4 linked regions of the Homo sapiens genome follow. The protein of the gene in region 3 purifies or fractionates together with the protein of the main gene of each other region. This does not show direct contact. Each region holds a gene or a part of one and is shown on either strand. Other genes may lie near its edges. The genes, in order: ZNF174, ZKSCAN8, PGBD1 and MYCBP2.

Region 1 (5,682 bases), on a different chromosome or scaffold from region 3:
TGAGCCACTGTACCCCCATTGCATTTTGTTATTCTTAAAGCTAATGGGCTAAGTGAGAAAGGAGAGTGGGAAGAATTCCCTTTTATATCTCCTTAGTACTCTTTGTCCACTACTTGCTTCTCACTGTAGCTTTTCCTTATGTGTTAGGCTGGGGTTGCAGCAACTGTGTAGATTTTTTTTTTCTCAATCAAAGGTGCTTTGAGAACAGGCACGGTGGTTCACACTTGCAATCCCAGCACTTTGGGATGCCAAGGCAGGAGCATTGCTTGAGCCCAGGAGTTCGAGACCAGCCTGGGCAACATAGCGAGACCCTGTCTCAAAAAATAAAAAGGAAAAAAAAAAGGTGCTTTGATACAAAAAAGATCCCTCAAATGTAATTTTCTTTTCTTTTTGTAAAAGCACCATCTAACTACTTGGAAACTCTTCTCGCACAAACGTGCATATTCTCATTTAATTCATCCTTTGCTATAAACAGCTAGTAATTACAGAAAGAATATGAGGGATCTATTTTCCAATTAACTTTGCCTTGAAATTCTGGTAGATCACTCATCTTTATTAAAGAAGTGTGCTCATGATAAAAAATTGTCTGGTATGACAGCAAATGCATAACTATATATATAGAATTTATCCCTTAACATATTTTAGAGGATAAAGCAACAGAGGGACGATTTAACAGTAAGCGGGCCACCTGCAGGATTGTCCTGATTCTCTCTCAGTAGTTACTCCTTGCTCTCTGCAGAGACTTAAGTTCTCTTTGCCCCAGTGCCCAGACCTGCCTTCTCTTCACCCTGTCATCATGCACGGTTGGGCCCTGGTTGGCCTTTTCTGGGCCTCCTCACAGCAGAATGTGCATCATCATTCCTCAAGGGCCTCGTGCTTTCCTTGTAAGTCACACAGTTTTTGTGATTTACATGCAAGTAAGGGGGAGGAGAAACACAAACACCTTCCGTGTGAATCTAAAGCATGGAGTGCTCCTTTTAGTCCCCATGGTGAAGTCGGTGATGCTGGTGAAGGTTTGAGCTCTGGCGAAAGCTTTTCCCACACTGGCCACACTGGTATGGCTTCTCTCCAGTGTGGATCCTCTGGTGCAGCTTCAGGGTTGACTGCCGCCCAAAGCAGTTTCCACACTCTCCGCACGTGTAGGGTCTCTCTCCTGTGTGGACTCTCTTGTGTCTCTTCAGCTCTGAATTCCACGTGAAGCTTTTCCCACAGTCATCACATTTGTAGGGTTTCTTTGCTGAGCGGGTGGGCTGGTGACCAAGATGTTGCAAACGGTTGCTCAGACTCCGTTTACCTCCTTTGCTTTTCTTTAGCTCTCTCAGTGGGTGGCTTTTTAGGGGGCTGCTGATGTATTCCACCCTGCAATGTCTCTGGTAGTGAGCAAATGGCTTTTGAGCATTTGGGGAGCTGACCTGCCTCCGTGACAACCGAGGTTCACTCATATTTGCCCCTCTTGGTTCAGGATTCTGCAGACCATTCCCTTTGGATCTGCCAGCTGACACTGCACATGGCTTTGCTCCTTTAGCCCCTTCCTGTTGTGGATTTTCCTTGTTGTCACTTCTCATTCTGGGGGCCTCTATAATTAGAAAGAAAATGCTTCATTTTCTGCACTTGGAAGAAATAACTTCAGCAAGAGTTATGAAATACTCTGAGAGGTTTCTCAAAGGGTGGCCCTCCGCTGGCAACTTGCATTAGACTCATCTGGAGCACTTGTTAAACAAGCAGGCTCTTCACCCTTCCCCCAGAGCTGCTGGGTCAGAATCTCGGGGGGTTGGGCCTGATAATCTGCACAGTTAGCAGGCTCCTGGGGTGACTGTGATTTATATTAAATTTAGGAACCAAGTTCTCCATCCTCCTTCTTCCTTTCTCCCTTTAGGGAAAGGTTTAGGAAATGAAGAACAGGGAAAAGCAAACCCATCAGAATTGGGTATCTAATGAAGAAGGAAGAGAGGTGAAATCTCAACATTGCAAATTTTACTGCTGTAGTCCAATGCCTGAGCTATTTCAACAAATACCCCTCACTTAGTAAACACTAATTGACAACCACCTTCTCTTCAAAAGATGGTAAGTTCAGAGACTGTGATGTTTTCTTTCATTACAAATTTGACAGTATATGAGTTCAGAAACTGGAATCAGGGCTTAGCCATGTATCCTAATTACAGAAGGATTGACAGTCTGGATGGAGATGAGCTGGAACGGCCTATGGGAAATCACAGGATCTGGAGAAGGATCCCTTGTGATGTGGAAAATGTGTGTGTGCACACGTGCATGCACAGGCACATGCACGTTGTTCAATATGGCAGCCACTAGCCACATGTGACTATGTGGCTACTGGGTACTTGAAATGTGACTACTGTGACTAAGGAACTTAATTTTAAATTTTTTTTTAATTTTAATTCATTTAAATTCAAATGTAAATAATCAGCCTATACAATCAGGGTCAATTGCTTTTTGACAAGACAATTCAATGGGAAAAGAATAGTCTTTTTCATAAAGGATTCTAGGACTACTGGATTTCCACATACAAGAGAATGAAGTTGGACCCTGCTATGGTCTGAATGTTTATCCCCCCTGTCCCCTGACACACATATATTGACAGTCCCCAGTGCAGTGGTCTTGGGAGGTGGGGCATCTGGGAGGTGATTAGGTTATGAGGGTGGGGTCCTCATAAATGGGATTAGTGTCCTTATAAAAGAAACCCAAGAGACTACCATGTGGGGACTCATAGCAGGCACCATTTATGAGGAATGGGCCCTCGCCAGACACCAAATCTGCTGGCACCTTGATCTTGAACTTCCCAGTATCCAGGAACTATGAGCAACAAATTTCTGTTGTTTATAAATTACCTAGTCTAAGGCAATTTGTTGTAAGAGCCTGATCAGATTAAGACAGACCCCTGATCAGATTGACAGACCCCTACCTCAAAACCTATATAAAAATTGACTTGTTTATGTATGGGGAAAAAATAAACTTAAAATGGACCAAATAGCTGAAAGTAAGAGCTAAATCTATGTCTCCTTGAAGAAACCATAGCTGTACATATTTGTGCCCTTGGATTAGGCAGTGCTATTTTACATATGACACCAAAGCATAAAGAAAGAAAAAAATAGATAAATTAGACTGCAGCAAAATGAAAAACGTGTGCGTCAAAGGACACTGTCAAGAAAGTGAGACAACCCACAAAATGAGAGAAAAGATTTGCAAATTACACATAAGGGTCTAGTATCTAGAATACATAAAGGACTCTTATAAAAAATAAAGACAAATAACCTAATTTAAAAATGACCAAAGGATCTGAACAGATATTTTTCCACACAAGATATGTAACTGGATAATAAGCACATGAAAAGATGTTCAACACCATTAGTCACTAGGGAAATGTAAATCAAAACCTCAAATCAAAATTTCTCACCGAATAGGATGGGTATAAGACAATAACAAGTGCTAGCAAGAATGTGGAGAAATCGGAATCCTCACACAGTATTGGTGGGGATGTAAAATGGTGTAGCTGCTTTGGAAAACAGTCTGGTAGTTCCTCATAAGTTAAACATGGAATTACCACATGACCTAGCATATGGTAATTCCACTCCTAGGTATATACTCAAGAGAAATGAAAACATGTCTACACAAAAACACACATTTATAGCAGCATTCTTCATAATAACCAAAAAGTAGAAACAACCCAAAAATCTATGAACAGATGAACCAACATGAACAGAAAACCAACATGTAATATATCCGTACAATGCCTATTATTCAGCCACAGAAAAGGAATGAAGCACTGATTGATGCTACAGCATGGATAAAACTTGAAAACATGCTCAGTGAAAGAAGCCACACACAAAAGACCACATATTGTGTGATTCAATTTATTTATTTATTTATTTTTGAGACAGGGTCTTACTTTGTCACATAGGCTAGAGTGCAGTGGCACGATCTCAGTTCACTGCAGCCTCGACCTCCCAGGTTGAAGTGATCCTCCTGCCTCAGCTCCCCCAAGCAGCTGGGATTACAGGTGTGCAGCACCATGCCCCGCTAATTTTTGCATTTTTTGTAGAGACAGGATTTCGCCATGTTGCCCAGGCTGGTCTCGAACTCCTGAGCCTAAGTGATCCGCCTGCCTTGGCCTCCCAAAGTGCTGGGATTACAGGCGTGAGCCACTGTGCCCGGCCTGTGTGATTCCATTTGTATAAAATGTTCAGAATAAGCAATTCTAGAGACAAAAAGTAGACTGTGGTTGCCAGGGGCTAAATGTTTATGTTCCTCCAAATTCATATGAAATTCTAACTCCCAAGGTAATAGTGTTAGGACATGGGGCCTTTGGGAGGTGATTAGGTCATGAGGGTGCTGCCCTCACTGGAATGGGATTAGTGCCTTCATGAAAGAGCCCCACGGGAGCCTGTCTTCCCCTTCTGCCACATGAGGACTGAGAAGTAGGCAGTCTGTGACCTGGAAGAGGGGCCTCACTGGAACCCAACCATGCTGGCACCTTGAACTCAGACTTCCTAGCCTCTAGAACTGTGAGAAATAAACTCCTGTTGTTTATAAACTACCTAGTCTCTAGCATTTTATATTAGCAGCCTGAACAGACTAAAACACGAAGTACCTCATTGGATGTAGCAAATATTAAGAAACTGAGGATTTTTGTCGTCTTGTAACCCTCCTCCCTAACGTGCTCACTGTATCTTGTATTCACATCACCAGGCTTGGCCAAAATGTCACTGTCATTCAGGCTTAGAGATCACAGGACTGTGTAGAACAAGGCCAGCAGTTACACAAGTATCACACCAGAGAAAGGGAAATAGATTTGAGGATCTAAAGTACAAGCAACATCACAGAGGAGGACAAAGATATAAGATATAGGGTGGGTTTTTATTTCTACCAGGCCCCTCTAAACAGAGGAGCATTTTAAGCAATGAAACTCAGCCATAGCTTGCATGGAAGTTCATCTGTGGCCATATTTGGATCTGTCTTTTCTATAAGAAGTTCTGAAACGGACAGAAAAGTAGGTACAACCCTGTCATGCACTGGATTCTTAAATTTTCATTAACAGAAAACGATAAAAACATACTTACTTGTAGTATCACCACCATCCTAATTAGTGAAATTTGTTTAGTGAATAATCATCTACTATTATATATAACATTTAAAAAAACACACACATGTGGTCTATGCCTTTGCAGAACCATGAGATACATTGATGGAGATAAAGGGCTGATGAGAGGGAGAGAAAAGGCAGAGTGTTTACCTGTCCCAGCCAATTTGGGGGTTGGTTCTTGGAGGAGTGGGGATTTCTCCCAATGATGGGGGCTCAGCCGGTCATAAGCTCCTGCCTGGGAAGGCTCTGCTGGAGAGCTCTCCCTGAGATCTCTCCTAGGAGTCTGCGGTTGAAAGTCTGGCAGTTCCTGTTCTCCAAGCTGAGATCCAGTTTTCTCCAAGAGCACCTTTTGCCCCTGCATACAAACGGCCACCTAGGAACAAGCCCCATCCATTAATTCCATCCATCAGGACTGAGGGAAGCTTGATCTCTCACTGTTGTATAATGACCCGTTTACCTTGGGAATTGCTGATAACCATCTAGAGGTCAACTTTCATAGAAACCACTGAAACCCTCAAAGGAAGTAAAGGGGAGAACGTGAAGAATGACAGGAATGAGGATGCTACAAATCAGCCGAGTGGCTT
Region 2 (7,385 bases), 150 kb from region 3:
TAGGTGCAGAGTGCCGGCACTAGAATTCTTTAAACCTGGATTCAAATTCTGACTCCACCACTCTCCAGTTAGGACTGAGGGCAATTTATTTTTAACTTCTCCAAGCCTCTGTTTACTCGTTTATGTAACTCAGGCTAATAACGTAGTGTCTATTTCATAGGGTGGCTTTGACTATTAAGTGTGAGAGTGCATGTAAGAACAGTCTAAGGGAATTTCCCTGCCTTTCCCCTTGTCTGCTGTCACTCTCATCCGTGTTAGACAAATGGAATTAATTAACCAACTTCCGCTTTTCTGAAGCACGGGTAAAGAGTGAAGTGCAGGACTTGGGTAAAGGAAAAACCAAGAAGGATGCAAAAGATGGATGGTCATTGTGAGATCCACAGAGGTGCTCATCCCAGCACTTTCACCTCACTTGGCATCTGTCACATGGTGGGTGCTTGATAAGTACATGGGTGAATGAGGACCTACCTAAGCAGAAGGAATTATTGAATAAGACTAGAATTGCAGGGAGAGGATGAATCAGATTGATTAGCTACTTGACAAAAAAAGGCAAACCACTCTTCCTGTCAGAAATGTATGGCACATCTGCATATTTCAAGGGCTGCCACTTACTGCAACTGGGAAGGAGATCTCAGAACCGACACCTCAACTATGGAAGCTTTAATCTATTGACAGCAAATGCAACATAGCAAGTAATATAAGACAGAATGTGATCAGTGCAAAATCGAATAATAAAGTCTTGAGAGGGGGTTATTAGAATAATAGACGAGTGTTTAGATTGAGTAGTGAGCAATGAGATAAGTCCTTTGACTTGGGGGTACAGGGGAATTATGACCAGGGGTATGGGATAGGGAGAAGGTCATTCTGGAAGGCAATAAAAGGCAGACAGGACGCTAGTGGTAGAAAAAAAGGAAAACACTTGTTTATCAATGTAAATCAATGGCGGAAGAATTACATATGACATATGCTATTGAGGAATACCTTTCAACCGTTCAAATGACAAAAGGAGTGTCAGAACAATATATATTCCATTTTTGTTGAAAAAATTTGTTTATATAGATATAATTTGTGGGGTATTTGTACAAGAAAAGGATGCACTCCAAACTTAACAGTGATTACCCCATATTGAAAATTGTGAAACTTTTACCCTACTTGCAAGCTAACAATTTAACTTGCCACAGTTTTATGGATACTAACAGAAGACACTGGACTCCTGCGTCAGAGACAGAAGACTTTATTACTTAATAACACAGGCATCATAAGCTTTATATTCCCTTGTTCCCAAAGCTTATGTTCCCAAAGCCCACAGAGGGGCCTAAGCTTGGCATTCCCCTGCTAGGATGGAACAGTGGGTTTGCAACCTAGCAGAGGAATGCCAAGCTTAGGAAGCCCAACCTTTGCTCAGCCTTGCCCCAGAATGAGCCATTATCTTTATTATCCTGGTCAGGAAACAACTGTGATCTAGAAGGAGATACAAACATCCTTGAAAACCTAACCTCAAAGAAAAATCTACCATAAGACTAGGAGTAATTTGAGAAGCCATTAAAGAATTATCTCCCAACATTCTAGGTAAATACTATTTGAGGGTGGAGATGTCAGCTTTTAAGAATTTTATATAATATTAATCTTTATCATGTTTCATTTATTTTTAAAAATACAAAAAATAAAAGGCAAGCATAGAAGTTTAAATTTTACTTAGAGATAAGGAACCACTCAGGGTCAGTGATTGGAAGAATGATAATGATATTTAAGGACCACGTCTTGTATAGTTAGGAAGGCTATCTCAAGGCTGTTGCAGTCACATAGGTGTGAAGTAATTAGAACTGAGGATGGTGGTTATATTAATGGAGAAAAGTAACACTTCAAAGGAGAAATCTGGCTCTGATAATTTCTCCTTTATCTCCATGTTTCATTGAGTAAACTAAGGAAGCCTCTCAAGCCTGAATAACTTAGAAATTGGCGATATTATCAACCATTCTAACGGATATGTGGTGGTAACTCATTGAGGTTTTAACTTTGCATTTCCCTGATGAATAATGGTTACTTTTTAGTGTGCATACTGGCCATTCTTTTATCTTTTGTAAAGAAAGTGTTTAAATCTTTTGCCTATTGGTGTTGAATTATCTTATTCATTAAATTGTGAGAGTTCTTTATATATTCTGGATAGTTCTTTGTCAGATAGATGTATTACAAATATTTTTCAGTGTGTAGCTTTTTCTTCACTTTCTTAATGGTGCTTTTTTTGAGAAGATTTAAATTTTGATGAGAATTTAAGTTTAAAATTTTGAAGTCAAATTTATCAGTTTTATCTATTACAATCAGTGTCTGTGTGTCCAGTTTGAGAAAACTACCTATGGCATGACGCTATTTTACTTCCTATGTGTACACAACTTTGTACATAGTATGTGCAGTCATAGTTGTGTGCACATTGAATTTGTACAACTACATATGTGCACAACTTCAGACTTAAAAAAAATTTATTTGTTTATTTATGTTGAGACAGGGTCTTGCTCTATTGCCCAGGCTGGAGTGCAATGGCAGGATCTCAGCTCACTGCAGCTTCTGCCTCCCAGGCTCATGCGATTCTCCCGCCTCAGCCTCTGGAGTAGCTGGGACTACAGGAGCCCACTACCATGCCTGGCTAATTTTTGTATTTTTTGCAGAGATGGGTTTTTGCCATGTTGGCCAGGCTGGTCTCAAACTCCTGAGCTCAGGTGATCCTCCCGCGGCTTCACAAAGTGCTGGGATTACAGGCATGAGCCACCGCGCTCAGCCAAAAAAGTTACTTTTAAAATGTGAAAAAAGAAACTGAAAGTAGAGTTCTAGTCTGTCACCAGTTACTTCCAGTTACCATCCCAGGTGGAAAGCAACAGCTGTGAAATAAAAAGCAAAAATAATTACTTTGAAGGAGTCCAGAAGCACTGTAGCTTCCCAGTGTTTACTATTATTTACTTGTTTTCATGTGATAATTAGATGACAAAACCCTTAAATCAAAACGACTTTGTCAGTACGCAAAATATTGGGGAGTTAGTAATTGGGAAGGGATAGAAATGTTGGTGGTGGCTACCAGCAGGAGCAGATAAAGAGGGAAATTAAGGTGAAAATTGGAGGAGCCCTGAGAACTCAATAATAGGTGGTTGGGAAAGGTGCTGAAGGAAATAAATACATGAGACTTAAACAACAAAAAATAACACTTGCCACAACCTCCACCCCTGAAATCCTATTAGTCTCAAAAGTTAAAAAGCTCTAATGCAACAGGTCTGTAAAGAATGAACACAGGGCCAGGGTGGTGTCTCATGCCTGTAATCCGAGGACTTTGGGAGACTGAGGCAGGAGGATCACTTGAGCCCAGGAGTTCAAGACCAGCCTGGGCAACATAGTGAGACCCCCGCCCCGCCCCGCCACCCCGTTTCTACAAATTTTCTTTTTTAAGCTGAGGGTGGTGCACACCTGTAGTCCCAGCTACTTGGGGGGCTAAGGTGGGAAGACTGCTTGAGCCCAGAAGGTTGAGTCTGCCGTGAGCTATGATCACACCACTACACTCTGCAATAGAGACCCTGTCTCAAAAAAAAAAAAAAAAGGCAAAAAAAGAAAAAAAGACTAACAAAGAAAGAATGAACATAGATTTGTTCCCCATATCTTGTGGTATTAAACCTAGGGTCTACTCTTCAAGCTTACATCATAGGTTTAGCATTAAAACAGCTAAGCAGCAAAGCAGATGCTGTAAGCGATAGAAATTCATTAAGATAGGAAAGAGTGGGAAATATGTAAAGATCCAAAAAGAATATATATTTAATTACGATTTTTTTGAATACTTAATAAAATATGCTATTCCTAAGTGCCATGCCATAGGGATTTCACAAAACTATGAACTGTGATTAGCAGGAATTCCTCATGAAGTTTGTACTCTATGTGAGAGGTCTGGATATGTTTATGAATCGAGAACAGTAAAGTACAGGGTATGTAACGGAGCCAAACGCGAATCCAGTTGGAATCCTAAGGATCCATGAAGTGCTCCCTCCTCCAACACTTTCCCAGCCTCCTATTCACAGCTCCAGCCTCCCCACGTCCGATATCTACCCCCAGGGGACCGTTACTATTGACAGCGAGCGCGCGGAGCTGCATGGGCACACAAGGCGGAGGGGACACCAAGGTCCGTTATTCCCCAGCACGTTCACTGCCCCAGCGACAGCGCAAGCCTGAGGCACGCAGACGCGGGAGGAACCCGAGGCACAGCACACAGCAGGTGAGGGGCGTGGTACTCCGGTACCCTCAGTCGGCCGACCATAGAGCTTGTAGACCTCCAGGACTCCTAGAGAGCTTCCGGAAGTGCCTTTGGGGCAAGATGCGTGCTGGCCGGTGTTGTGCCTCCGCAGATTTAGAAGTTAGTGGCCGGAGGGGCCTGGTCCGAGTACAGCTTTCATCGCCTTTACTCCCCGACCTTCCTTCGAGTCTGTTTATCCGTTGCAGCCTCCCTTCCCCACGACGGGGCGCCTCTGCAACTCACAGTGAGTACGGTCGGGCTCTGGGCCGGAGGAAAGTGGGTGCTTTGTGGCTGGTCCAGGCCGCAGCTGAGGACTGGCCTGAGGGGTCCGGAGAGGGGCCTGTGCGGTGTTCGGCGCCGCGGACCGATTCTGACGCCTTAGTTGCTGTTGCAGGCAGAGTACGTCCCCACGAATTGCCCTTGAACTTTTTGCGAGGGAACCTTTTATGAAGCTTTCTTCATAGATAATCGTGTTGTGGTATGTTTTTGTAGTCGATCTTGTTTATCTTAAAATGGGGAACGCCCCCCCCATGTTATTTTTTATCCAACTATTTCCAGAGTCTGAATTGTTTTCACTTAGCGCTCTTTTGCGTTTAGGTCACAACAAAATTCTCAGTTTTTAAAAAAGACATATTTTGCTTTTGGAAGCCCCGTTTATCCATGGAAACCAATTTTTGCTGTTACTCTTCTTTCTTTAGTGTATTCAGAAACTGGTGGTGTGTTGACTAGATAATTGTACGAAAGTTTTTTTTTTTTTTTAATTTCAGGGTAATTCAGAATTCAACATTATCAGAATGCCTATTTCATTTGTTAAAGCAAACTGAAGTTAGCCAACGAGGAACTCTGGGAGGGCCCCATTTCCAAAACTCTGGTTAGTCATGAGTAATTTTTGTCAGGCTACTTTGACTGCCACCACCACCTTTAAAAACATATTTCTGTTGTTTGTTAGTTCCGTTGAGTATATTTACGTAGCAATCATTGTTTTAGCAAATACATACATGTTTTGAATTTCTGTTGTTTAAATGTAAAATGTGATAGATGTTAATTAAAACTTTCAGCTAATGCAATTTGAGATAACAAAGCATAGTATTGGCTTCACCTACTTTTTCTTGGATTTTAAATCCTGGAAAATGTCTTTTTTGTTTTGTTTTCAGTTCCCAAACATTTCTCAAATTAGACATAGTCTGAAGGAAGAATACATTCCTTCCACAACTATTGAAAAAATAATACTGTTAAAATTGAGTTGTGCCTTCAGCATCTCACAGGATTACAGTATTTAAAATCCAGAGGAAGCTTTAAAGATTGCCTTTTAAACTCATGTAAACTTGACTAGGTGTTCTTTAAGGAGACTATGTAAAAATCAGTCTGTATCCACAAAGTGCTCACCAACTTAATACAGACATGTACGCACAAAACTGAGAGGAAGGTACATACTGGAGTAATTTTGCACTCAGTTATTTATAGGTTGTAATTCTCAAAAACCAGCTGATCAGAGAGGGAAGAGACTTAAAAAAATGGAAAATTAGCCACTAAATAGAATAATCAAGATGAGCAATGGGCAAGACCTGTTGGCTGATTTGGTATAAAAAATGAACAAACCTGATAATTAGCTGGTTTTCATCAGTGTTGTTATTGAGACTTTTTAATACCACATCAACAATATAAAGTTCTTGAATGCTGCGCACTTCACATTAAAATATTTTATAGCCTCCTGTACTGGTAAGTAGTGGGATTGCACCTGTGAATAGACTCTGCACTCAAGCCTGAGCAACATAGTGAGACCCTGTCCCTAAATAATAATAATAATATTTTATAGCCATTATGGATGAGGATTGCTCAGTAATAGATGGCCAGTTGTTCAGTAGTTAAAAATGAACCTTGGCTTTAAGGAAATTTATAAGAAAACATGGTAAGACTACCACTATATAACATCACATTCTAAACAGAATTTATGTCCCATGTATTGACCTTTAAGTTTTTAACATTAAACCATAAGTAGCTATTTTAAGAAAATTTAAGAGTTTGTTTTGATTTGAAAAATTAAATTATTTTAAAATTAGCTAAGACCATTTTAAAATAAATTATCTTAAAATTATAGATAATTTATTCAAACAAAAACAAATTGTCAAAACCAAATTGATTACCCTTTCTCAACAAAATCTCAGCATCTTCCTCAAATTCACTCTTCCCCCAAATCTCACTATTCTAGCAAATTCCTCCACTTTCCTGTAAAGTCATAATCAATGAACTATACCCCCAATGTTAATTGATATATTTAACCATATCTTTTGCTCCTTGGTTCTTCTGATCTGTAGTTTACTCTCCACCCTGTTGTTCCCGGCCTTGTCTAACTTGAAAAATAATTTTCAAATTCCCTTTCTTTTCTGTACACACTCTCTATGTAGGATTTGTTTGTATGTTTGTTTGTTTTTAACCTTCCTGGCATTCTTGGATGGCCTTTGAGTCTGTGAACTCTGCCGAAATTGAGTATACAATTTTGTATCTGTGGACATTTTGCTGGAAAGAAGTTCTGTGTTTTCTTTAGGTTGAAGAGTCTATAAACCAACCCCCCTCGCCCCGTGCCACAACTCCAAAAACTGAAAAGATAAGCACTGCCTTGATGATCCGTATGGGGAACTGTATGTACAGTAATCTGATTTTTTTCCTAAGTACCTATCTCTTCTTTGTGGACTATAGGTCTCTGGTTTTATCTTGATGTTAGCATCTCATGACAACTGGTTTAGGGTATGCTACCTTTACTTACACTCTTCTTCATTCTCTACAGTATCTTTGAAATACAAAGATAATGGTCACCTCTGTCAACAAACATTTGCAATAAGGCCATGGCCACATTCTCACAATGTGATAAGTCCTATATTTGGACCATGTTAAAAATGCTTTGGTAGGAATGACAAATGGCAGGGGGATGACAGAGAAGAACTCATGAAAAAGGTAATAGATAAATTAGAGTTAAGAGTTGAATGATTTTAGGCCGGGCACAGTGGCTTACGCCTGTAATCCCAGCACTTTGGGAGGCCGAGGCGGGCAGATCACGAGGTCAGGAGATCGAGACCATCCTGGCTAACACAGTGAAACCCCATCTCTACTAAAAATACAAAAA
Region 3 (7,032 bases):
AAGTAGTCCCTCCTCTTCAATTTTTTTTTTTTTTTTTGAAGAATTTGAATAGGATTGGTATTAGTTCTTTTTAAATGTTTGGTAGAATTCAGCAGGGAAGCCAACAGGTCCTGGGCTTTTCTTTGATGGAAGACTTTTTATTACAGATTCTATCTCGTTACTTGTTATTGGTTTGCTGAGGTTTTCTATTTTTTCATGGTCCAATCTTGGTAGTTGGCATGCATCTAGGAATTTATCCATTTCTTCCAGGTTTTCAAATTTATTGTCATAGTTGTTCATAAGTCTCTAATGGTTTCTTTGTATTTCTGAGGTCTCAGCTGTTATGTCTTTTTCATTTCTGATTTTATTCATTTGGGTCTTCTCCTTTTTTGTTTGTCCAGCTAAAGACTTGATTTTGTTTATCTTTTAAAAAAAATCCAACTTCTTGTTTCATTGTTCTTCTGGGTTTTTTTTTTTTTTTTTTGGTCTCAATTTCAGTTATTTCTGTTCTAATCTTTATTTGTTTCCTTCTACTAATTTCAGTTTGGTTTGTTCTTGCTTTTCTAGTTCCTTGAGGTGTATCATTAGGTTGTGCATTTGATGTCTTTTTACTTTTCTGATATAGGTGTTTATTGCTATAAATTTCCTTCTTAGTACTGCTTTTGCAGTATCCCACAAATTTTGATATGTCACATTTTCTATTTTCATTAGTTTCAAGACATTTTTACATTTCCTTCTTAATTTCTTCCCTGACAAATTAGTTGTTCAGAAGCATGCTATTTAATTTCCACGCGTTTGTGTAGTTTCCAAGGTTTTTCTTGTTATTGCTTTCTAGTTTTATTCCACTGTGATTAGAAAAGATACTTGATATGATTTATATTTTTTAAAAATTTGTTCAGATTTGTTTGTGGCCTAAGATATGGTCTATTCTTATGTCCCACGTGCTGATGAAAAGAATGTGCATTCTGTAGCAGTTGGGTTACATGTTCAGTAAATATCAGTTAGGCTTATTAGATCTAGCATGTAGTTTAATTCCATCGTTTCTCTGTTGACTTTCTGTCTGGATGATGTGTCAATTACTGAGAGTGGGGTGTTAAAATCTCCTACTATTATTGTATTGCAGTCTAACTCTCCTTTTAGATCTATTAATGTTTTCCTTATATACCTGGGAGCTCTGGTGTTGCATGCATAGGTATTTATAATTGTTATATACAGCCGGGCATGGTGTCTCACGCCTGTAATCCCAGAACTTTGGGAGGTCAAGGTGGGCAGACTGCTTGAGGCCAGAAGTTCAAGCCAGCCTGGGCAACATGGCAAAAACCCAGGTCTACAAAAAATACAAAAAATTACCCAGGCATGGTGGCACACACCTGTGGTCCCAGCTACTTGGGAGGCTGAGGTGGAAGGATCACTTGAACTCGGGAGGCAGAGGTTGCAGTGAGCTGAGATGATACCACTGCACTCCAGCCAGAGTGAAAGAGTGAGACCCTATCTCAAACAACAACAACAAAAAACCTCTGTGGCTAAGTGATTTTCTCTTATAGTATGCCTTCCTTTGTTGCTATTTTTAGTGAATTTATTATAGGTTTTTGCATTGTAGTTATCATGAGGCTTACAAAGAAGACCTTCAGATATAATAAGTTATTTTAAAGAGATAACAACTTATCTTAGATCCCAAATACAAGAGTAGAAACAAAGGCAGAAACACACAGAAAAAAATTATATGCTTTAATTCCATTCCTCTAGATTTTGACTTTTCGTTGTCTCAATTTATATCTTTATATTACCTATCTCTTAACAGGTTGCTAGCCATTATTGTTTGTCTTGTTTTGTTTTAAAGATATGGTCTCACTCTGTCTCATGTCTCCAGGTATAGCATCAGGATCTTACCATGTTGCCTGGGCTGGTCTCAAACTCCTTGTCTCAAGTGATCCTCCCACTTCAGCCTCCCAAAGAACTGGGTTTACAGGCATGAGCCACTGTGTCCAGTCCTATTATTGTTTTTGATAGGTATGTCTTGGGGCTTCACAGTTGTGAGTATACTGTATGTCACTATTACAGTAATAAAGTATTCTGGGTTTGTCCATGTACTTAATTTTATCAGTGACTTTTATGCCTTCAAAAGTTTTCTTTATGCACATTAGTCTTCTTTCCTTTTAGACTGAAGAATTCTTTAGCATTTCTTGTAAGATGTGTCTGGTGGTGGTGTACTCTCTCAGCTTGTTTGTTTGGGAAAGACTTTCTCCTTCATATATGAAAGATAATTCTGCTGGATACAATATTCTTGAATGTCAGTTTTTTTCTTGGAGTACTTTGAAAATGTCATTCCACTTTCTCCTGGCCTGTATGATTGCCATTGAGAAGTCTATTGCCAGACAAGTTGGAGCTCCTTATTTGTTTCTTGTCTCTTGCTGCTTTTCAGATCCTCTCTTTTTCCTGGACAGTTGAGAGTTTGATTATTATATGCCTTGGAGTAGTCTTATTTGGGATGATTCTGTTCAGTGTTCTCAGATCTTCCTGTACCTGGACATTTATATCTTTCACAAGTTTTGTGAAGATTTTTGTTATTATTTCTCTATTTTTAAAATTTATTTTTAATTTATTTTATTTTAATTTTTTTGAGATGGAGTCTTGCTCTTGTTGCCCAGGCTGGAGTGTAATGGCATGATCTCGGCTCACTGCAACCTCCATCTCCCAGGTTCAAGCGATTCTCCTGCCTCAGCCTCCCGAGTAGCTGGCATTGCAGGTGCCTGCCACACCTGGCTCCTTTTTTTTGTATTTTTAGTAGAGACGGGGTTTTGCCAGGTAGGCCAGGCTGGTCTCGAACTCCTGACCTCGTGATCCACCCACCTCAGCCTCCCAAAGTGTGGGATTACAGGCATGAGCCACCACGCCTGGCCTATTCTTTTTTTTTAAATAGATACAGGGTCTTGCTGTGTTGCTCAGGCTGGTCTCAAACTCCTGGCCTCAAGCAATCCTCCTGCCATGGCCTCCCAAAGTTCTGGGATTACAGTTGAGAGCCACTGCACCCGGCCTATTGTTATTTCTTTGAATAAGCTTTCTATTCTTGCTCTTGCTCAGCTCCAAGAGCAGACTGTTTAAAGGATGGCTGCCTCTAATGTGTGGTCTCCTTGCACACACTTGATTATCCATCATTCCACTTTCTGCCATGAGCTAAAGCAGCATGAGATCCTAACCAGATAGGCTGATGATCTTGGACTTCCCAGGTTGTAGAACTTTGAGCTAAATAAACCTCTTTTTAAAATAAATTACCCAGTCTCAGGAATTCTGTTATTAGCAACACAAAATGGACTAAGACAGAGCCTGTTTCCAAATCAGGTCACATTCACAGGTACGTGGGGTTAGGATTTTCATATATCTTTTGGAGGGACATAATTCAATTTACAACATCTAAGCCTTACTTCAATTAAGGGCCCCACTTTCTCTGTCTAGTCTTGTATTATCTGACTCAATACTAGTTTCATTTCACTGTCCACCTATACCATTGCTCTTTGATTTTCTTGGGCTTCTGGTCTTCTTATTCCTCCTTAATTTGAACTTACTAATTATATTTCAGTGCAAACACCTGACTACGTTGTTATTTCCCTAGTTATAATCACATCAAGCACTTGCATTTTGAAACACTACTTTTAAAATAAATAACTTTTTTGTTTCTACATTATACCATTAAATTACATTTAAGGGAATTATGTTGATTTTCAGAATGTGCATGAGTAGGTTTTATTTTCTAGATACTTCTTATCAGGAAGTATTTGTTAATAACAGGAGGCACTGGGTCTGATAGAATTAAAAATTAATTAGAAGCCATAGAAGAGGACTGAGCAAGTGTCTTGAGGAAACTGATGTGGCAGCAGTATGCAAGAGGACTTAAATGAGAGAGTTATTTTTTTTTTGTAAATAAATGACTAGGAAAATGAATGAACCACTAATAAGAAAAAAAACCAGAGTCCATTTTGTGAAGAAGATGTTAAGTATTACCTTAGATATATAGAATTTCCATTATTATCACCAAGCATTAATTGCATACATGCTGAATATAAAGTAGTGTGAGAAAGGGCCCTTATTCTAAAGCTGGGGAGATAAACCAGAGACTTCAAAGGAGAAAATATCAGTTACTCAACATCAAATGAGTGGAGCACTTTCTGAAACCAGGAGCCTCACTCCACCCCTCACTCCCATGCCTTGAGATTTGGACGTGCCTCCTGAACAATGAAATGAGGCAATGGCATATAATCAATACAAGCTCCTCGAATGATGCAACACACTTTGTGATATTCTGTGACAAGGTGAAGGCAGAGGGACTATGCCACCTGAATGGCTCTCACGATGATGAGTGTGAGCCAAGAGAAGGGCAAGGAACATGGAATGAGGGAGAAAGACCACTACTGATATTCCTACAAGCTTGGGCATCCTACTTACCTGGGACCTGACTGGGTTAAACACAGGCACTACAGCCTTGTCTCTGGGGTTTTTTTCCTGGAGATGAGCTGATCCGTGGGGAACAGGCCCTGCAGAGAGAGAGGGCAAGAGTCCTAAATGAGACATGATGGCCTTTAGGGTACCCTTTTTGGAGACCCAGCCTTTTCCCCCAAATGTTATGTTTGTTAAACATTCAAGAACTAAGACGTAGATTTTACAGTGTGAGAAAGAGCATCACAACTGCTTTCATTCTGTCAGAAATTCTAAAATTCTACAACTTTAGGGTCTCTCACCCAAAAAATGGAGTGGGATTTATGAACTCATAAGGTGCTTTACAGTCATGCACTTTCACATAAAGAAAAAATAAAAATCATAGACAAAAATAAAGGGGAGGAAGAAGCTGGTGATAAAGGAAGGATCAAGGAGAGAACACAGAGGCAAAAGAAAGGATGTAGAGAGTAGAGAGATGAGACTGAGGGGAAACAGGAAAGCAGAAGAAAGGAAGATGGAGAGAGAGACAGGAAAATAAAGATATTTAAAAAAATAGAGAAGAGATGTTAGCCATGAACTAGAAAAACTGTTAGGAGGTACTGATCCCAAAGAACCAACAATAATCAAAATGGTGATGATGACTGCACAAGGCCAGCCACTGTGCTGTTACTTTAAAAGATTATTTCCAATCCTCAAAATAATCAAGAAGGTCCAAATTATTGCCTCCAAAATCCTAGGCACATTCAGAAGAATCACAGCTGAGTGCAGAGTACACACAGAGATCAAACAGATAATTGTTGATTAACTGAATAACCTATTAAATGACTTGCCTAGGTCACAAAGTTGGCAGTTGGCAGATGGCAGAGTACAAAATTATCAAATGAAGAGCACATGTGGTAATTCTAACCCAAAAATATAAAACAGAACATCACTTTTCTTTGCTCTGCTTTTCTTTGCTTCCATAATGGATCACTATGGAATGTTTTTATTGCTGTTGTTGCATTTCTAGAAGGAATAAAGTTTGCTGGAAAAAAACAGCCTTGCCCCGATTCACTTTTACTATTATATGTACTTGTCCACAACACATACATACTAAATAAACCAGCTTAAAATGCACAGTGTAAAATAAAGCAGGTCTTTACAAGTTTGTTCAGATACAGGGTTAGACAAAAAAATAAAACTTGATGTTGGTCACAGGGTATAAACTTGCAGTTATAAGATGAATAAGCTCTGAAGACCTACGTACAGAATGCTGACTATAGTTAGTAATAATAATATATTGTATACTTGAAATTTCATGAGAGTAGATCTTAGGAATTCTTACCACAGACACATAAAAGGTAACTGTGAGATATGTAAGTTAGCTTGTGGTAATCATTTCACAATGTATACAAACTTGAGGTCAAGAAGGCTGTGCAAGTGTCAGTGGCCAGCTCCCAGCGTCCTCACTAAACTCACTCGAGCACTCACCACTCACTTCTTGGGGGTTCCCTTGAGGACGCTGTGGAGGTTCACACTTCAGGGTGGTTATCCCAGGCAGGAGCTGGAGGCTCTGACACTCCAAAGAGACTCCTTGATATTCTGCCACCATTGGGTGCATGTCCTGTCCCTGAATATAGACAGAGGCCTGGAAACAAAAGATTTATTTTGAAAGGGCATGCATATATGGACTGCATGCTAAGAGCCTGGCACTGTTCTACATGCTGGGGATACAGCAGCAAACAAGGCAGAAAAGACAGGCAAAGGATCCCAGCCCAGAAAAACAAAAACAACAAACAAGTGGATGTTTAAACTAGCTGGTGAAAATTTAATGAGGAACAGGATATGTACACCACCTCAAAATGTCTCCCACAGATTACTTAGTAATTACAAAGGGGAAAATGGTAACTTTCTAGTGGAGAAAATTGACAGGTACCACCATAACCTCATCAGTAATGGGACAAATCATCACTACGCACCTCCTGAAGTAACGCACTGAGAACACAACATTACCTCTGTGGTATTCTAGCCAAAATGTGCAGCCTGAATCATGAGAAAATATAGGACAAACTCAAATTGAGGGATAGTCTCCAAAAAAACTAGCTGTACTCTTCAAAAATAACAACGTCATGACAAAGACAGCAGCTACTCCAGATTCACAGACTAGAGATATGGCAACTAAGTGCAATATGTGATGCTGGCTTGTATCCTGAATCACAGGAAAATTATCATAAAGAACATTATTAGGATAACATGGCAAAATATGAATAAGGACTAAGGTTATATGATAGTATCGTAAGTTTAATTTCCCTAAACTTGATTTTTGTATTCTTGTGATACAAGAGAATATCCTCACTCTTCAGAAATACACACCGAATAGCCAGGTGCAGTGGCTCATGCCTGTAATCCCAACACTTTGGGAGGCCAAGGCAGCATGATCACTTGAGGCCAGGAGTTCAAGATCAGCCTGGGCAATATAGTGAGACCCCACCCCCGCTACAAAAAATTAAAAATAAATTAGCCAGGCATGGTGGCATGCACCTGTAGTCCCATCTACTCAGGAGCCTGAGGTGGGAGGATTGCTTGAGCCTTCCACCATTGCAGTTCAAGGCTGCAATGATGCTATGATCGTACCACTGCACT
Region 4 (7,032 bases), on a different chromosome or scaffold from region 3:
TAGGTTTATGGATTTTCAGTTTTTTATACCACTTGAAACCCTTCAGTCAGATTGCTTTTCTCCTAACAACTAACTGGTATCACTTGCACTAAGAGTAGAAGTTTTTATTTTAAGGAGGAAAGGTGATGTTGAAGTTTGTACCATTTACTTGGGTCACAGACAGCCTGGCTCTAATGCCTCAAAGAAAAGCATAAAATAGAATGAAGGAGAGACACTGAATGAAGGCAGGGTGCTAAAAACAATTAATGTCCATGCAGAAACATCTAATGCTTTGCCTTAGAAAAGGGAGGTGATTCTTCTTTTCATCCTGTTTTTCTGTCATTCTCCTGACTCCTTGTTTTGAGGGTCCACAGTTCAGACTTTTACCACTCATTCTGAGGATCCACCGTTTCTGTGGTTTCCAAGGGAACACAGGCTCTGAGTTCTAAGCAGCTAAGCTTCCTGAACTTTTGGAGTGTAACCTGTTTATAAATAATTAAATAACAGCTTCAGGGCATTCATGTGCTCATTGTAAACTAGTCTAATCTGATCATAAAACAGAGTGCCTCTTAAGCAACTCTTTGTTAGCCTAATTGTATGCATACACTTAAAAATTATAATTGTGTCTATGCATAAATTCAGTTCTCTAATTCAACAAAACCCATACCGTTGCCCTAAGGATGCGAGGTATCACTCTGCTGGAAATTTAGCTCTACTCTACATTTAAAATACAAGTTTTCACATTAAATAATTTCTTATTCCCCAAAAGATTAATTTCTGTCTCTTTCTAGTCCCTCACTGAATTTAAATTCTAACTAGTTATTGCACTAGGGCAGAGGTTGAGATATCACTGATAGTTCACACTGGATTTGTTCAACCTGTTGTTTTGCGTCCATGAAAATAGTTTTTGGTGGTAATGTTGTGTAATGATGTGTAGAAATTTTATTAGAAATATTTCCCCCTTCTTTCCTTTATTCTTCAAGTATTTTAGTATGTATGACAAACAATATAAATTTTGTAGCTATGTTTTTTTATTTCAGTGTTTAGTGGCTAAATTATCAGTAAGTTATAATTTTATTAATAAGTTTCACTGTAAAATGGACCATACAGGTGATCGAGGAAACATCTCAACATCTTCTAAACCAGCCTCTACATCAGGAAAATCAGAGCTGTCCTCTAAACACAGCAGATCGCTTAAACCTGATGGACGTATGAGCCGGACTACTGCTGATCAGAAGAAGCCAAGGGGCACAGAAAGTTTATCTGCTAGTGAATCCCTCATCTTAAAATCTGATGCTGCAAAGTTGAGGTCAGATTCCCACAGTAGGTCATTATCCCCCAACCATAACACCTTGCAGACATTGAAATCTGATGGGAGGATGCCTTCTAGCTCCAGAGCTGAATCCCCAGGACCAGGTTCTCGGTTGTCATCTCCTAAGCCAAAGACTCTCCCAGCCAATAGGTCTAGCCCATCGGGTGCTAGTTCTCCACGCTCCTCCTCACCACATGATAAAAATCTACCTCAAAAAAGTACTGCTCCTGTTAAGACAAAGCTTGATCCTCCTCGGGAACGTTCTAAATCAGACTCTTACACACTTGATCCAGATACCCTCCGCAAGAAGAAAATGCCCCTCACAGAACCTTTGAGAGGACGGTCAACGTCACCAAAACCAAAATCAGTACCAAAGGATTCTACAGATTCCCCTGGATCTGAAAATAGAGCTCCCTCTCCCCATGTGGTACAGGAAAACCTCCACAGTGAGGTGGTCGAAGTCTGCACCTCAAGTACTTTAAAAACAAATAGTCTAACAGACAGCACCTGCGATGACAGCAGTGAATTTAAGAGTGTGGATGAAGGTTCAAATAAAGTTCATTTTAGCATTGGAAAAGCACCACTGAAAGATGAACAGGAAATGAGAGCATCTCCCAAAATAAGTCGAAAATGTGCTAATAGACACACCAGGCCCAAAAAAGAAAAATCGAGTTTTCTTTTCAAAGGAGATGGATCCAAGCCTTTAGAGCCAGCCAAGCAAGCCATGTCTCCTTCTGTGGCCGAATGTGCCAGAGCTGTGTTTGCTTCCTTCCTCTGGCATGAAGGCATAGTACATGATGCAATGGCTTGTTCTTCTTTCCTAAAGTTTCATCCTGAACTTTCCAAAGAACATGCTCCTATAAGGAGTAGTTTAAATAGCCAACAACCTACAGAGGAAAAAGAAACCAAGTTAAAAAATAGACATTCATTAGAAATATCATCTGCACTGAATATGTTTAATATTGCACCCCATGGACCAGATATATCTAAGATGGGTAGCATCAACAAAAACAAGGTATTGTCTATGCTTAAGGAACCACCTCTGCATGAAAAATGTGAGGATGGGAAAACCGAGACCACTTTTGAAATGTCCATGCATAACACAATGAAGTCTAAGTCTCCTCTTCCCTTAACTTTACAACATTTAGTGGCTTTTTGGGAAGACATCTCTTTGGCTACTATCAAAGCTGCTTCCCAGAATATGATTTTTCCAAGTCCTGGTTCCTGTGCAGTTCTTAAAAAGAAAGAGTGTGAGAAAGAGAATAAGAAGTCCAAAAAGGAAAAAAAGAAAAAAGAAAAGGCAGAAGTTAGGCCCAGGGGTAATTTGTTTGGAGAGATGGCCCAGCTGGCAGTAGGAGGACCAGAGAAAGATACCATCTGTGAACTGTGTGGGGAGTCACATCCATACCCGGTGACCTATCACATGAGACAAGCTCACCCAGGTAAATGATACTGTTGAATGTACGTATAAGTGCTTTTTTCTTTAATGAACCAGATCACTTTATTTGAGCTGTTCTATGAATTTTGTCAAAGGATAGGGAATTTATAGTATCTTAGAATGTCATTTTTAAAGTACATTATCAGTACAGGGTTTTGTGAAAAACAGATAAATTCTAATATTATGATGGCCAGGTCATTTAGTGCTATTTCACTTTCATGTAGCATGTTTTAAAAAATATTATGTGTTACCCAAAGGGTGTGCCATTAATGTGTCTGTCTCACACAGCAGAAACAGTGGCATGCCCATACACACAGGGCATCTCCTTTGATTTTACTATTTTCCTGTTCAGAATTGCAAATTAAATTAGATTAGATTGATTTCTATAGGCTTTTTCCTACGGAAGTGATATTGTTTTATCAGAAGACTGCATTTTCAGTAAATGTAATGATTTCTGTAACATTGACTAATATTCCAAATTCACCTAATACAAATTTGGTTAATTTTTTTCTTTGTCTACATATTATACCTCAAATGTCTTATGAATATGTGATTTCTGAAAATATATCATTGTTATAGAACTTTTATACTTGTATTGTCTAATTTTATTGACATAATTAAGTATATCTAAATATACCTATATTCTATCTCTCTTTTAATATGCCTGATTAGAAACTAAGTATCTCTCATATTTGGGGCATCATTTAATTGATTGCTTTTTGATCAAGTAAGCTATTTTTCTGATATAGTTAATAGCCTGAAAAATAAGATATCTACTTCAGTATTTTGCTTTCTTTGAGAAGGTAAATCTGTCATTAATGTATGAGTAATAAGGATCAAACTATTAAGGACACTTGGAGTGTTAAATATTTATTTTTGGTATTGTTTCAAGGTTGTGGCCGATATGCTGGTGGACAAGGTTACAATAGCATTGGGCATTTTTGTGGAGGATGGGCTGGTAACTGTGGTGATGGTGGCATAGGAGGAAGCACTTGGTATCTGGTATGTGATCGCTGTAGAGAAAAATACCTCCGCGAAAAACAGGCTGCTGCAAGGGAGAAGGTATTTTATTCCATTTGGAGCTATACTTTTAATGATATGGATACACTGTATAAAAATACCTTGTTATAATCTTACTACATCAGATAATTCCACATAGTTGATATTAAAAGATCAGCTTTTATAATGGAAATCATATACAAATTTAATATTTGTACTAAGTCAAATGCTTTTAATTTTAAAAATTAACTATATATTGGAATAACACTAGATAACCTCTGCTACATATGCCTTATTGACAAATATTTGTTGTGTAACTCTTTATTATTAATTGTCTGTTATTCTCTCTATGGAGAGCTTTCCTTTTCACCTTCTTTCTCTTTTCCTCTTTTTTTGGCTCCTTTGTTTTCCTATTCCATATCTACTCTCTCTTTTCTTTATTCACTCTAGTGGCACCTAACTAAAAAATTTCACTGAATACACGCACTGAAATGATTTACTTTTTAAAAAAATGAATTACATTTAGATTTAACTAGTTAGGTGTTAAATTTTTCTGAAGAAGGAAAGGAAGTATAGTTTGTGTTTGATACAAAATTGTCTTGGTCAGCCCAGGATGAATATGAAATGAATGTTGTTTTTTATAATCTTATTATCTTAAAATAGCTTTACAAGTGTTTAATAATTTTTATTGGAAACTCAAAATACTTAGCTTAAGAAACTAAGGATTTTAATGTAAGTCAGAAAAGATTAGTTTGATTTTTTTCTTCGCCAGGTCAAACAATCTAGGAGAAAACCAATGCAAGTCAAGACCCCTCGTGCCTTGCCCACCATGGAAGCTCACCAGGTGATTAAAGCCAATGCACTCTTCCTGCTGTCCCTGAGCAGTGCAGCAGAACCGAGCATTCTGTGTTACCATCCTGCAAAGCCATTCCAATCTCAGTTGCCCAGTGTAAAAGAAGGCATTTCTGAGGATCTTCCTGTGAAAATGCCTTGTCTCTACCTGCAGACATTAGCTAGGTAATAAAATTTTGCTGTTGTTTTTTAATCACCTTTGGATTAACAGCGATTGTTTATTGATATCTAGGGTAGTTCGGTATTTGACCTACACTTTATTAGCTATTGTGTACTATAAACAAACTTCCAGGCATTTATTTTTTGAGTTGCCTTGACTGACATAATGACTTTATGGTAATAGGTATTTAAAAAACTATAAAAATGCTTCATCAATTTGCATTGTATTAATACACAACATGTCTTAGAAAATAAGACTATAGCTATCTTTTACTCTTTGGTAGGCTGACTTCACTCTGTTAGTGCGAAATGCTGAAGTGTAAAGAAAGTGTGTTTCCTTAGCAGTCTTTTATTTCGTAAATTATTCATTCTGTTAGCATTTAAATGAATACCAACTGGGCACCTACCAGCCTTGTGCTAGGCCCTGAATGTATGAATATAACAAAATCCTGGCTTCTATGTACTCATACTCGGATGTCAAGTCAGACATGTTAGTGAAACATTTGAAATGCCATGTGAGGAGTGCTACAATAGAAGTATGTATGTAAGATGCTGTTAGAGCATAAAAGATGGAGAGTATCTGAATCTTCCCCAGGAAATCAGAAAAGGCTTCCCAGAGGGTCTGAGCCTTTAGTAGAGTCTCAAAGGATAAATAGAAATCTGTCAGGCAAGCGACAGGAAGAAAGCGACTCTTGGAAGAATAACCCAGGTGAGTAAAGACACAAATGAAATCTCATTACACATTTCAGGAATCACGGGTTGTTAAAGGACTGGCTACTGGAGGAAATATGTGAAAGCCCGTTCAAAGTGATTGGTTCACCCAAGTAATGTCGGGCTCTGTAGCCCAGGTTAAGATTGCATTTTATCCCATGAGCAGAGGAAACAGTGGAAGAATTTTAAACAGAGAAATACATGAACTGGTTTGCAATTAAAAAATCACTGTGGAATGTGGAAGCTAATGTGGAGACTAGATAAAAGTGCATTACTGGAGATAGAAACCTGTTAGTATTCTGTTTTCATATATTGGACCTCAGTGGTGCAGCCTGTACTTTCACACATCATGCACTGACACTCCAAAAGAGCCTTTCATATACCAAAACCAAATTTTTTTCATCAGCTGACAAATGAAGGTAATCTAGATATTGCCCACTGACATGGCTTGCCGACCAACAGTTCCATTTTGGAAATTGTCCTCTTTGTGTAGCAGAGTTGTATGGTTTTTAAAATTTTGTGCTTACTATTACAATAAAATGAATAAGCAACAAAAATGAAAATATCAGACTAAGTACATTTGAGACTGAGGTGGAAATCATCAGTATGCCAAAATACAATAGATCTTTAGTGTGAATCACACCACTCAGTGGACTTAGGTTAGCAACTATTTGTTCATTTTGAAAAGGAAAGAATCAAATTGTAAAACGTGAAAAATGCTAACACAGCATAATTATAGATTTTTTTCTTTTTAGCTGTCTGGGGAATGGGCACCCCTTCCACCCTGAACCACAGAAAATTTCATATATCTAATATTTTTCAAATATGATCTTATGTATGTTCCTACCCAAAAAAGTAACTGCTTGTATTTCAGTGGTCTGTGCAAGAAATAATAAGCATGAACCAAGGCAGTGATGATAGGGAATGAGAAGAGAGAATGGCTCTGAGAGGAAACCTAATATCATGGGCTTGAAAGATGATGATGATAGAGGGCTAAGCCTACTACAACACTGGAAATATTTTAGCTTAAGCAACTGGATGGTTGGTGGGCTTATTCACCAAAACACTGGAAGATGGAAAAGTTCTCAAAAGGAAAGAAACTGAGTTCAATTTTGGATTTGAAATGTTCGTGGTACCTGGAATGTTGATGAATAAAATTATCAGACTTTTATTTTCACCTACCTACATCTACGATTATTTTAATGCTTTGCCTTTAACTATGATTTACATGTGCTGCTTTTCCTGTTATGAAAGAGATTAAAAATGGAGAGGATCTGTATTGCCATCATGCTTTAAGTTATTGGGTTTGATTTAATGCAGGCATCATCATGAAAATTTTGTGGGCTATCAAGATGACAATCTATTCCAGGATGAAATGAGATATCTACGTTCAACATCTGTACCTGCCCCGTATATATCAGTAACTCCTGATGCAAGTCCTAATGTATTTGAAGAGCCAGAGAGCAATATGAAGTCTATGCCACCAAGGTATTTTAGTTCTCTCCTGTCTGTTGAATAGCTAGTGTTTGGTGGAAGAAAGACTTTGAACTAGAAAAGAGTCCTGTAGAAGTTCTTTAATACA

Evidence for each region.
Region 1: the proteins of PGBD1 (region 3) and ZNF174 purify together in Homo sapiens (affinity purification with mass spectrometry; 2 studies listed by BioGRID and IntAct, with this or other methods). This does not show direct contact.
Region 2: the proteins of PGBD1 (region 3) and ZKSCAN8 purify together in Homo sapiens (affinity purification with mass spectrometry; 2 studies listed by BioGRID and IntAct, with this or other methods). This does not show direct contact.
Region 4: the proteins of PGBD1 (region 3) and MYCBP2 purify together in Homo sapiens (affinity purification with mass spectrometry; 2 studies listed by BioGRID and IntAct, with this or other methods). This does not show direct contact.

The regions. Positions count from the first base shown.
Region 1 is NC_000016.10:3,404,215-3,409,896, reverse strand, and holds the end of ZNF174 (zinc finger protein 174), read right to left. Parts: intron 5,472-5,682; coding exon 5,249-5,471; coding exon of another isoform or gene 5,124-5,248; exon of another isoform or gene 4,989-5,123; coding exon of another isoform or gene 4,909-4,988; exon of another isoform or gene 3,856-4,908; intron 1,577-3,855; coding exon 978-1,576; 3' UTR 533-977; downstream 1-532. UniProt on the Homo sapiens protein: Transcriptional repressor.
Region 2 is NC_000006.12:28,137,522-28,144,906, forward strand, and holds the start of ZKSCAN8 (zinc finger protein with KRAB and SCAN domains 8), read left to right. Parts: upstream 1-4,361; 5' UTR 4,362-4,508; intron 4,509-4,689; exon of another isoform or gene 4,690-4,742; intron 4,743-6,809; exon of another isoform or gene 6,810-6,903; intron 6,904-7,385. UniProt on the Homo sapiens protein: May be involved in transcriptional regulation.
Region 3 is NC_000006.12:28,284,556-28,291,587, reverse strand, and holds part of PGBD1 (piggyBac transposable element-derived protein 1), read right to left. Parts: intron 6,038-7,032; coding exon 5,881-6,037; intron 4,509-5,880; coding exon 4,420-4,508; intron 1-4,419.
Region 4 is NC_000013.11:77,093,071-77,100,102, reverse strand, and holds part of MYCBP2 (E3 ubiquitin-protein ligase MYCBP2), read left to right. Parts: intron 1-1,089; coding exon 1,090-2,733; intron 2,734-3,621; coding exon 3,622-3,791; intron 3,792-4,500; coding exon 4,501-4,745; intron 4,746-6,770; coding exon 6,771-6,938; intron 6,939-7,032. UniProt on the Homo sapiens protein: Atypical E3 ubiquitin-protein ligase which specifically mediates ubiquitination of threonine and serine residues on target proteins, instead of ubiquitinating lysine residues.